Regions from separate parts of the Homo sapiens genome. Here region 1 is linked to region 2. The links come from fine-mapping of genetic effects on gene expression. A gene starts in region 2. The other region holds a variant in brackets. All regions are shown on one strand. Distances are from middle to middle. Region 1 has its middle 7.8 kb from the start of ZNF843. Region 2 holds the start of TGFB1I1 (transforming growth factor beta 1 induced transcript 1).

Region 1 (5,369 bases), 21 kb before region 2:
AGTTCAAAGAAGTTATATAAATGGCCAATAATTACATGAAAAGATCCTCAACATCATTAGTCCTCAGAAAAATGCAAATCAAAACTACAACGAGGTGCCACATCATACATATTAGGATGGTGATAATAAAAAAGACAGGTAATTACGCCAGTAGTGGCGGCTCATGCCTGTAATCCCATCACTTTGAGAGGCTGAGGTGGGCGAATCACCTGGGCTCAGGAGTTCGAGACCAGCCTGGTGAACATGGTGAAACCTAGTCTGTACTAAAAACACACAAAAAATTAGCCAGGCATGGTGGCGGGTGCCTGTAGTCCCAGCTACTCAGGAGGCTGAGGCAGGAGAATCACTTGAACCTGGCAGGTGAAGGCTGAAGTGAGCTGAGATCACGCCACTGCACTCCAGCCTGGGAAACAGATGGAGACTCTATCTCAAATAATAATAACATTATTATTATTTTTAAAAATAATATTTAAAAAACATTAAAATTTTTTTTTTAAATAATATTTTTAAAAATGATATTTTTTAAATGATAATATTTACAGGCAGTGGCTCACACTTGTAATCCCAGCACTTTGGGAGGCCGAGGTGGGCGGATCACCTGAGCTCAGGAGTTTGAGACCAGCCTGGCCAACTTGGTGAAACCCTGTCTCTACTAAAAATACAAACATTTGCTGGGCGTGGTGACAGGCGCCTATAATCCCAGTCACTTGGGAGGCTGAGGCAGGAGAATCACTTGAACCTGGGAGGCGTAGGTTGCAGTGAGCTGAGATCACGCCACTGCACTCCAGCCTGGTGACAGAGTGAGATTCCGACTCAAAAAAAAAAAAGCTGAAAAGACAGTTAATTAACAAGTTTTTGTGAGAATGTGGAGAGATTGGAACCCTCACACATGGCTGGTTGGAACGTAAAATCATTCATTAACTTTGGAAAATGGTCTGGCAGTTCCTCAGATGTTTAAACATAGAGTTATATGATCCAGCAATTTCCCTTCTAGATATGTAACCAAAAGAAATAAAAGCATATTCCACAAAAACCTTGTACGTGAGTATTCATAGCAGCATTATTCATAATAGCCCGAGTGGAAACAACCCAAATGTCTGTCAACTGATGATTGAAGAAAGTGGCATATCCATGTCTTAGTCTGTTTTGTGCTGCATCGTAGAATGCCTAAGGCTGGATAATTTATAAAGAATAGAAATATCTTTCTTTCAGTTCTAGAGGTTGGGAAGTCGAAGGTCAAGGGCCCTGCATCTGGTGAGGGCCTTCTTTCTGCCTCATCCCACAGCAGAAAGCGGAAGGGCAAGACAGTGCAAGAGAGGGGGTGGGTGGGGGCAGAACCCATCCATTTATCTATCAGCTGTCCACTCCCTTGATAACTAACCTACTCATGCAATAATGCCATTAATCCATTCATGAGGGAAGAGCTCACATAACCTAATCACTTCTTAAAGTTCCCACCTCTCAACAGTTGAATTGGAGGTTAAGTTTCCAACACATGAACTTTAGGGGACAGGTTCAAACCACAGCAATCCATAAAGTGAAACTGTATTATTCCTAATAAAAAGAAATGAGATACTACAGTGTGGATGAACCTTGATAACATTATGCTATATGAAAGAAGCCAGACACGAATGACCACACATTGTATGATTCCATTTATATGACATGTCCAGAATAGGTCATCTGTAGAGATAAGATGTAGATTAGTGGTTGCCTAGGGTTGGGGTATAGGGGGTGTTATGGACTGAATGTTTGTATCGCCCCCAAATTTATACATTGTTTAACCCCCAGTGTGACTGTATTTGAAGACAGGGACTGGCTGGGCATGGTGCCTCACGCCTGTAATCCCTGAACTTTGGGAGGTCAAGGCAAGCAGATCACCTGAGGTCAGGAGTTCAAGACCAGCCTGGCCAACAAGGTGAAACACCGTCTCTACTAAAAATTCCAAAAAATTAGCCAGGTGTGGTGGCAGATGTCTGTAATCTCAGCTACTTGGGAGGCTGAGGCAGGCGAATGGCTTGAACCCAGGAGATGGATGTTGCAGTGAGCCGAGACCACGCCATTGCACTGCAGCCTGGGCAAAAGCAACGAAACTCCCTCTCAAAAAAAAAAAAAAAAAAAAAAGATAGGGCCTGTGAGGAGGTGACCTTAAATAAGGTAATCAAGATGAGGGACTTCCAAGAGGAGTGCTGGCAATTAAGAGAGCTGGGGCCAGGTGGGGTGGCTCACACATGTAATCCAGCACTTTGAGAGGCCAAGGTGGGAGGATCCCTCGAGCCTAGGAGTTCGAGACCAGCCTGGGCAACATAACAAGACCTTGCCTCTATTTATAAATTCAATTTATTATTATTTTTTTTAAAAAAGGGAGAGAACTGCGAGGAAATAAAAAGAGAAAGGGCCAAGGCCAGGTGCACTGGCTCACACCTGTAATCCCAGCACTTTGGGAGGCCGAGGCAGGCGGATCACGAGGTCAGGAGATCGAGACCATCCTGGCTAACACGGTGAAA[C/T]CCCGTCTCTACTAAAAATACCAACAAAACAAAACAAAACAAAACAAAACAAAAAAAAACTAGCCTGGTATGGTGGCATGCGCCTGTGGTCCCAGCTACTCAGGAGGGTAAGGCAGGAGAATCGCTTGATCCCAGGAGGTAGAAGTTGCAGTGAGCTGAGATCGCGCCACTGCTCTCCAGCCTAGGCGACAGAGCGAGATTCCATCTCAAAAAAAAAAAAAAAAAAAAAAAAGAGAGAGAGAAAAGGCCAAATATTTCAATTCTAAGGTTTGGAATTTTTTTGTTGTTGTTCTTTTTTATTTTAAGGGGAAAATGTTGAAGCAATTTAAAAGTGTACTGCAGGAGAATAAATATAGCGATATTGTTACCAAAAAAATCCAAAAACCAAAAACCCAAAACCCAAGAACAAAACCTTCCCAAGGTGCTGACAAAGCCCCGAATCTCCAGGCTGCAAACATTCTCCTGGCTGCTCATTTGTGAGGATCCAGTGACCTGTGTCCACTGCTGGGAAGCGAAGGCATCTGCTGGTGTGGTGCAGCCATGCTGGGGGCATGGCGAGGCCTGTGGATGCAGTTCTCTGCGCTCTGCCCTGTGCTCTCTCTGACGTCTTCCACATCCCCACCTCTTCACCCTCTCCGGGGCTTTCTTCTCTACCCATCTAGGGACTACAGCCCAGAAAAATGCTACCACACCACACATTGCATTTAGTTGTCACGACTCTCTAGTCCCCATTATTCCAGAGCATCACCTCAATCATTTCTTGATTCTGATTACCTTAAAACTGTTACACCTGTAGTCCCAGCACTTTGGGAGACTGAGGTGGGAGGATTGCTTGAGCCCAGGAGTTCAGGACCATCCTGGGCAACGTAGCAAGACCCGTCCCTACAAAAAAAAAAAATTAAAAATTAGCTGGGTGTGGTGGCATATGCCTGTAGTCCCAGCTACTTGGGAGGCTGACACAGGAGGATCACCTGAGCCCAGGAAGTCGAGGCTGCAGTGGGCTGTGGTCGCACCACTGCACCCCAGCCTGGGTGAGGGAGAGACCCTATCTCAAAAAACCATAAAAAGCTTTTTGTTATTGGGATGGCACTGCTCCAGGGCTTTCCAGAGCTAGGGAATATATGGACATTTACACACATCTGCGTGCACATACACATATACACACCCATACTAATTTCTATGTCTATCTAAACACTTTCTGAAAATCCTGAGTCTACTCCTATACCTCCAGTTCCAATTCGACACCACAAGGGTCTCCCCACCCACATTTTCTCCCTTTCCCGAGCTGTGTCTCGGTTTTCTCTGACACTGAGAAACCTGGCTGTTATCTTTCAAATGTGTACTTATTTGACCAATAGCTGGTGGAAGCAGTTTCTTATCTCTCTCGCCATCTCCTTCCCGTGGCTGATGCCTTCCTAATCCTATCAGGTTCTGCCATGCCAAGCCAGGCCACCTTCTCGTGTGGACACCCTCCCCCACCTGCTGGAGCTCTGATACATGCTCTGGCCTGCTGCGTCTCACTCCCCACACCCGGCAGAGGCCTCTTTGGCTCTGCCTGCCCCTAGAGGCTGTAAGACAGCATTGTTCAGGAAAGGGAGGAAAGGGAATGGGTGTAGGAAAGGAAGAGCGGATCTCCTTTGAAGAATTATCTTTAAAAAAAATTATTTTTTTAGAGACAGGGTCTCACTCTGTTGCCCAGGCTGGGGTGCAGTGGCACAATCCTAGCTCACTGCAGTCTCAAATTCCTGGGCTCAAGCGGTCCTCCTGCCTCAGCCTCCTGAATAGCTGGGACTACAGTGAACATCACCACACCTGGCTGGTTTTTTAATTTTTTCTAGAGATGGGGTTTGCTATGTTGCCCAGGCTAGTCTCGAACTCCTGGGCTCAAAGCATCCTCTCACCTCAGCCTCTCAAAGTGCTGGGATTATAGGTGTGAGCCACCGCCTTTTTTTTTTTTTCTGATTTACTATAATATTTCTAGTAAGCCATTGGCTTAGAAACCAGATTCACTAATTAATTCATTTACCCTTTCATGATACAAAATTTTTTAACTGAGTGAGGCCTTTCCTGAGAATTGAGCACATGAGCTTTGGTGCATGGACCTGGAAATCTCTGCTTCTTGAACTCCTAGGGGCTTCCTTTACTTCATTCACTCCTGGTGCTCAGCAAATTTCTGAATGGGGGAGGTTGGCCAGCCTGGGAGAGGTCACCCACGCCAGGAAGTCTCAGTACCTCTCTATTTATCCTATCACTTGGGAATCCTCTAGGATCTGTTTCAGGGAGTCTCTGGTTAGCCCTGAGACATAAGTGGTGCGGGTGAGACTCCTGGGGCCTATCTCAGAGGTCCTCACACCCCTGAGATTAAATCAGTCAGGAGGCAGGGTGGAGAGAGGAGTGTCCTATCAGGTCTGAGGAGGTTGTCAACTTCCTGGACTTCTTGCTAAGGACTCCTCTTCCCACCCTTCATGGGTAGCTGAGGTCAGGGAATCTGTAGGGACAAGACTTTCTTTTAAATGCTAATCTGCTGACTAACCCTGAGTCTGGGAATGCCTCCAAAATGTCAAGCTGATGTGTTTTTTTATTTTTTGGTTTTGTTTTTTTTGTTTTTTTTTTGAAACGGAGTCTCACTCTTTCATCCAAACTGGGGTGCAGTGGCACGATCTTGGCTCACTGAAACCTCCACCTCCTGGGTTCAAGCAATTTTCCTGCCTCAACCTCCCAAGTAGCTGGGATTACAGGCACGTGCCACCATGCCTGGCTAATTTTTATATTTTTGGTAGAGACAGGGTTTCACCACGTTGGGCAGCCTGGTCTCGAACTCCTGACCTCAGGTGATCTGCCCACCTCGGCCTCCCAAAGCGC
Region 2 (5,369 bases):
ACACTGAGGGTTGAACTGTGATGTATAAATGTGGGGGAGACACAAACATTCAGTCCATAACACTCCCTTTCCCCCAACCCTAGGCAATCACTAATCTACATCGTATCTCTACAGATGACCTATTCTGGACATGTCATATAAATGGAATCATACAATGTGTGATCTTTCATATCTGGCCTCTTTCATATAGCTTAATGTTATCAAGGTTCATCCACACTGTAGCATCTCATTTCTTTTTATTAGGAATAATACAGTTTCACTTTATGGATTGCTGTGGTTTGAACATGTACCCCAGAGTTCATGTGTTGGAAACTTAACCCCCAATTCAACTGTTGAGAGGTGGGAACTTTAAGAAGTGATTAGGTTATGTGGGCTCTTCCCTCATGAATGGATTAATGGCATTATTGCATGAGTAGGTTAGTTATCAAGGGAGTGGACAGCTGATAGATAAATGGATGGGTTCTGCCCCCACCCCACCCCCTCTCTTGCACTGTCTTGCCCTTCTGCTTTCTGCTGTGGGATGAGGCAGAAAGAAGGCCCTCACCAGATGCAGGGCCCTTGACCTTCGACTTCCCAACCTCTAGAACTGAAAGAAAGATATTTCTATTCTTTATAAATTATCCAGCCTTAGGCATTCTACGATGCAGCACAAAACAGACTAAGACATGGATATGCCACTTTCATTTCTTCAATCATCAGTTGACGGACATTTGGGTTGTTTCCACTCGGGCTATTATGAATAATGCTGCTATGAATACTCATGTACAAGTTTTTTTGTGGAATATGCTTTTATTTCTCTTGGTTACATATCTAGAAGGGAAATTGCTGGATCATATAACTCTATGTTTAAACATGTGAGGAACTGCCAGACCATTTTCCAAAGTTAGTGAACGATTTTACATTCCAACCAGCCATGTGTGAGGGTTCCAATCTCTCCATATCCTCACAAAAACTTGCTAATTACCTCTTTCTTTTCAGCTTTTTTTTTTTTTTTTTTTGAGTCGGAATCTCACTCTGTCACCAGGCTGGAGTGCAGTGGCACAATCTCTGCTCACTGCAACCTCTGCCTCCCGAGTTCAAGTGATTCTCCTGCCTCAGCCTCCCGAGTAGCTGGGATTACAGGTGCCTGCCACCACACCCAGCTAATTTTTGTATTTTTAGTAGAGACGGGGTTTTGCCAAGTTAACCAGGCTGGTCTCCAACTCCAGACCTCAGGTGATCCGCCCGCCTCGGCCTCCCAGAGTGTTGGGATTACAGGCGTGAACCACTGAGCCTGGCCTTTAAAATATTATCATTATTATTTGAGATGGAGTCTCGCTCTGTTGCTCAGGCTGGAGTGCAGTGGCACGATCTCAGCTCACTGCAGCCTCCACCTGCCAGGTTCAAGGGATTCTTCCGCCTCAGCCTCCCAAGTAGCTGGGACTACAGGTGCCCACCACCATGTCTGGCTAATTTTTTTGTGTGTTTTTAGTAGAGACTGTTTTCACCATGTTAGCCAGGCTGGTCTCGAACTCCTGACCTCAGGGGATCCACCCACCTCGGCCTTCCAAAGTGTTAGGATTACAGGTGTGAGCCACTGCTCCTTGCCTAATTACCTGTCTTTTTTGTTATTGCCATCCTAATAGGTATGATGTGGCATCTCATTGTAGTTTTGATTTGCATTTCTCTGGGGACTAATGATGTTGAGGATCTTTTCATGTAATCATTGGCTATTTATATAACTTCTTTGAACTGTCTATTCAGGTCGTTTGCCCATTTTTTCTTCTTTTTCTTTTTTATTCTTGACACAGGGTCTCCTCTGTTGCTCAGGAGTTCAGTGGCACAATCTCAGCTCACTGCAGCCTCTGCCTCCAGGTTTCAAGCAATTCTCCTGTCTCAGCCTCCCAAGTAGCTGGAATTACAGGCTCCCACCACCACGCACAGCTAATTTTGTGTTTTTAGTAGAGATGGGGTTTTGTCATGTTGGCCAGGCTGGTCTCGAACTCCTGACCTCAAGTGACCTGCCCGCCTTGACCTCCCAAAGTGCTAGGATTATAGGTGTGAGCCACCATGCCTGTCTCGCATTTTTAAAAAGCTCCCCAGGTTGTTCCGATTTGCTGCTGGGTTGATACTCACATTCCAGTGCTCAGATCTGTCCAGAAGAGTGGCTGCAGCACAGTTGTCTGTCCATAACTACCTCTATGGCCTCTCGTTTCCACCTCGTTTCTCAGGGTCTCAGTCCAGGGAAGGCCTTGCCACTTTGTGGCTGGAGACTGTGTCTTGCTTTCTGCTCTGAGTTCATCAGTAACTTGGGAAAGGGCTGTTTCAGAGCAGGCCTGGGCCACCTCAGTGCTGAGGAAGGGCTTTGTCTTGCAGGCTGGCTGGGGGTTGGTTGCCTGGGAGTGTTTTCCCCGAATTTGCAAGGGGCTTGCGCCCGGGTTCGAGTTTACGTGTGTCCATGACCAAGTCTTGGAGGGAAGGTCCTAGTGTAGAGTCTGTGGGTGGGTTCACTGTGTCTGTCCCCGTCCCTCAGATTTCTTTGTGTCTGGTATGTATGCCTCTTGGGGCCTCTATTTATCTGTCAGGGTCTCCGATGGGAGGGTCTCCGAACCTGAGGTCTAATTGAGCCTTAGAATATCACTCCTGCTACCAATCCAAAAATTCCGTCTGGGACAAGTCTCCCAGGAATGGCATGGGTGGGAGGGAGGCTCTTGTCTAGGACTCAGGCGCTAGCTTTGAGCGGTGTCTGTTTGGGGGCCTCAGTCCGTGTCTGTAAGTCTCCCTAGGGAGCGGCTCTGGGGCTTGGTCTGGAGAAGCCACTTCTCTCTGGCTCTGGCCTCCTGGGGCTCCCTGCAGCTGAGGCCAAGGCTGGGGTGTGGCCGCCTCCGCGGCAGGCCGGCGGGCTGGGCTCGGGTGGGCCGGGGCGCTCCCTCCTTTCCACGCCCCCACCTCGGGTTCCCCCGTTCATCGCCCCCCCATCCCCATCTCAGCGGGTCCCGGCTTCCTTACATGGTCACGGCCGGGCTTCCAGCTCCCGGACGTCCCCCGCCCCCCGCCCCCACCGGACACGGCCCCCGCCCTGTTCGCCCCGCGCCACCGGCCCGCGCCCCGCCATGGAGGACCTGGGTGAGTGGGGCCGGATCCCCGGGTCCGTGGCCCCTCACCGCTGCCCAGAGCTGCCTCCCCGCCGTCGCTCTCCCGCATCTCCCCATCCCTGTCTTCTTACTTCTGCTTTTCGCCTCTGCCCGCGCCTCCTTTCCAACTCCACGTCCCCCTTCCTGCCTCTCCCTTCCTGCCTTTCCTGGGCCGGCCGCTCCCTCCCTTCTTCCCTCGCTGTGCTCCTCCATCCCAGGCTGCGGCAGATGGAACGGGAGGTGCGGCGCCCGCGGGCGCCCGGGCGCGGGGCTCTGGGGAGGGAGGGGTTAAAGGGGCCTCGGCCCGGGGACCGGGAAAGTAGAGGGCACGGGAAAGTCTGGCATCAAGTTTTGGAGAAAAAAAGCGGGCCTGCCTGCACCAGAGTTTTGGGAGAGGAGGAGTTAAGGGCTCCTGAGCACAGTGAGGGTCAGGTCCTTGAGGCAAGGAAGAGAATAGTAACTCAGGAGTGCCTAGGCGCCCGCGAAGGCTTCAGGGTTTCACGCGGGTGCTCAGAGACGAAGACTGAGGGCAGGACTTCTGGGTTCTGGAAGTGAAAGGGCTCAAAAGACCCGGATCTGGGGATGCAGGGATGGAGAGAGGTGTCTTGTCCGGAAGGGGGACCCAGGTATCTCGTCCTCCCTGCGAAGCCTGGGGCTGGAAGGCTGTGCGCTCCACGGGAGAGAGGGGCTTCCGGCCCCTGGCGGTAGAGGGCGCTGCTCGGTAGGGGTAACTGACGCTGTACCGCAGATAAACAGCCAATCAGAAGGCAGGTCCCAGCGAAGCGCCAGTGAGGAGCCCAGGGCGGGACTCAGGGGCCTGGGAGTGGCCAGGCTGGGCGGGGCCTGTGTAGGTAGAGGGAGGAGTTAACCAGCATGGAAGAGAGAGCGTCCAATCAGAAAGCTGAGGGCCAGGCACTGGGCCAATGGAGCAATTTGGAGGGGAGCCAAATTTGGCTTGGGTGAAGAGCCCATTTTGACTGCATCAGAGAAGATGGGGAGAATAAAATAATCAGGAGGCTGGGTTTGTGCTTGGCTCCAAGCGTGAGCAACTGGGATATTCTGGTCATAAATATTCCTTGCTACCCTTCGAGCAGTGCTCTGCCTGGCTCTGGCCCTGTGACCTCTTCTCTTAATACTGGCTTCTGTCCTTCTCCAGTACTGCCCACTGGGAACCTTATCTTCTGATCTAACCGTGACCCTTGTCTCTCTCCCTGATGGCCTCTTCCTGCAGATGCCCTGCTCTCTGACCTGGAGACTACCACCTCGCACATGCCAAGGTCAGGGGCTCCCAAAGAGCGCCCTGCGGAGCCTCTCACCCCTCCCCCATCCTATGGCCACCAGCCACAGGTGAGATCGGATGTTGGGGACTGGGGCAGCCACTAGGGCCAGGCTCGGCCTGGTCTATGGGGATCTCAGCCTCAGTGGGGCAGAGTGCAGGCCTGTCATCCCACCTGTGCGTCTCCGCTCTGTAGACAGGGTCTGGGGAGTCTTCAGGAGCCTCGGGGGACAAGGACCACCTGTACAGGTGAGGGGCCTGGAAACCAGGGCATGGGGGCCAACTGAGTCTCAGGTGAGGAGGCTTGGATTCCCCACCCCTGAACCCAGGCTCCCACTCTGCTTCCCAGCACGGTATGCAAGCCTCGGTCCCCAAAGCCTGCAGCCCCGGCGGCCCCTCCATTCTCCTCTTCCAGCGGTGTCTTGGGTACCGGGCTCTGTGAGCTAGATCGGTTGCTTCAGGAACTTAATGCCACTCAGTTCAACATCACAGGTACCAGGGTGACTGAGAGAGGCCTTGATGCGATAGGGGCAGGGGAGGGAAGGGTGGGGCAGAGACTAAGAGGAATACACTTCCCAGAGTAGCAGTTAAAGGGACCTAAAGCCTCAAGTGTGAGGGTGCGTTGAGCATGGCCCTATATGTAGCGTCCTCCTCTCCTCTCTCCAGATGAAATCATGTCTCAGTTCCCATCTAGCAAGGTGGCTTCAGGAGAGCAGAAGGAGGACCAGTCTGAAGATAAGAAAAGACCCAGCCTGTGAGTTTGGCGTCGTTGTCAGGGCTGAGAGATGAGTCCTGGATATCTGAGTCACTAGAGGGAGCGTTGCTCTGGGAGGCTCTGAGATGACACAAGCATGTTCTTCACAGCCCTTCCAGCCCGTCTCCTGGCCTCCCAAAGGCTTCTGCCACCTCAGCCACTCTGGAGCTGGATAGACTGATGGCCTCACTCTCTGACTTCCGCGTTCAAAACCATGTGAGTTGGG

What was found. PIP is the estimated chance that this variant, and not a neighbour inherited with it, causes the effect.
Region 1: its variant is fine-mapped to the expression of TGFB1I1 in lymphoblastoid cells (GTEx, PIP 0.99).

Annotation. Positions count from the first base shown.
Region 1 is chr16:31,447,893-31,453,261 of GRCh38, forward strand. No RefSeq gene overlaps it. Among named protein-coding and RNA genes, the nearest start is that of ZNF843, 7.8 kb to the left of the region's middle. RefSeq lists enhancers at 3,916-4,210, 4,791-5,369. The variant C/T (reference allele first, on the strand shown) is at 2,508.
Region 2 is chr16:31,469,097-31,474,465 of GRCh38, forward strand. TGFB1I1 (transforming growth factor beta 1 induced transcript 1) reads left to right here and starts at 3,056. Exons shown (of 11, transcript NM_001042454.3): 1 at 3,056-3,105; 2 at 4,345-4,460; 3 at 4,586-4,638; 4 at 4,739-4,881; 5 at 5,056-5,143; 6 at 5,254-5,359. The coding sequence starts at 3,093. RefSeq lists an enhancer at 3,395-3,935.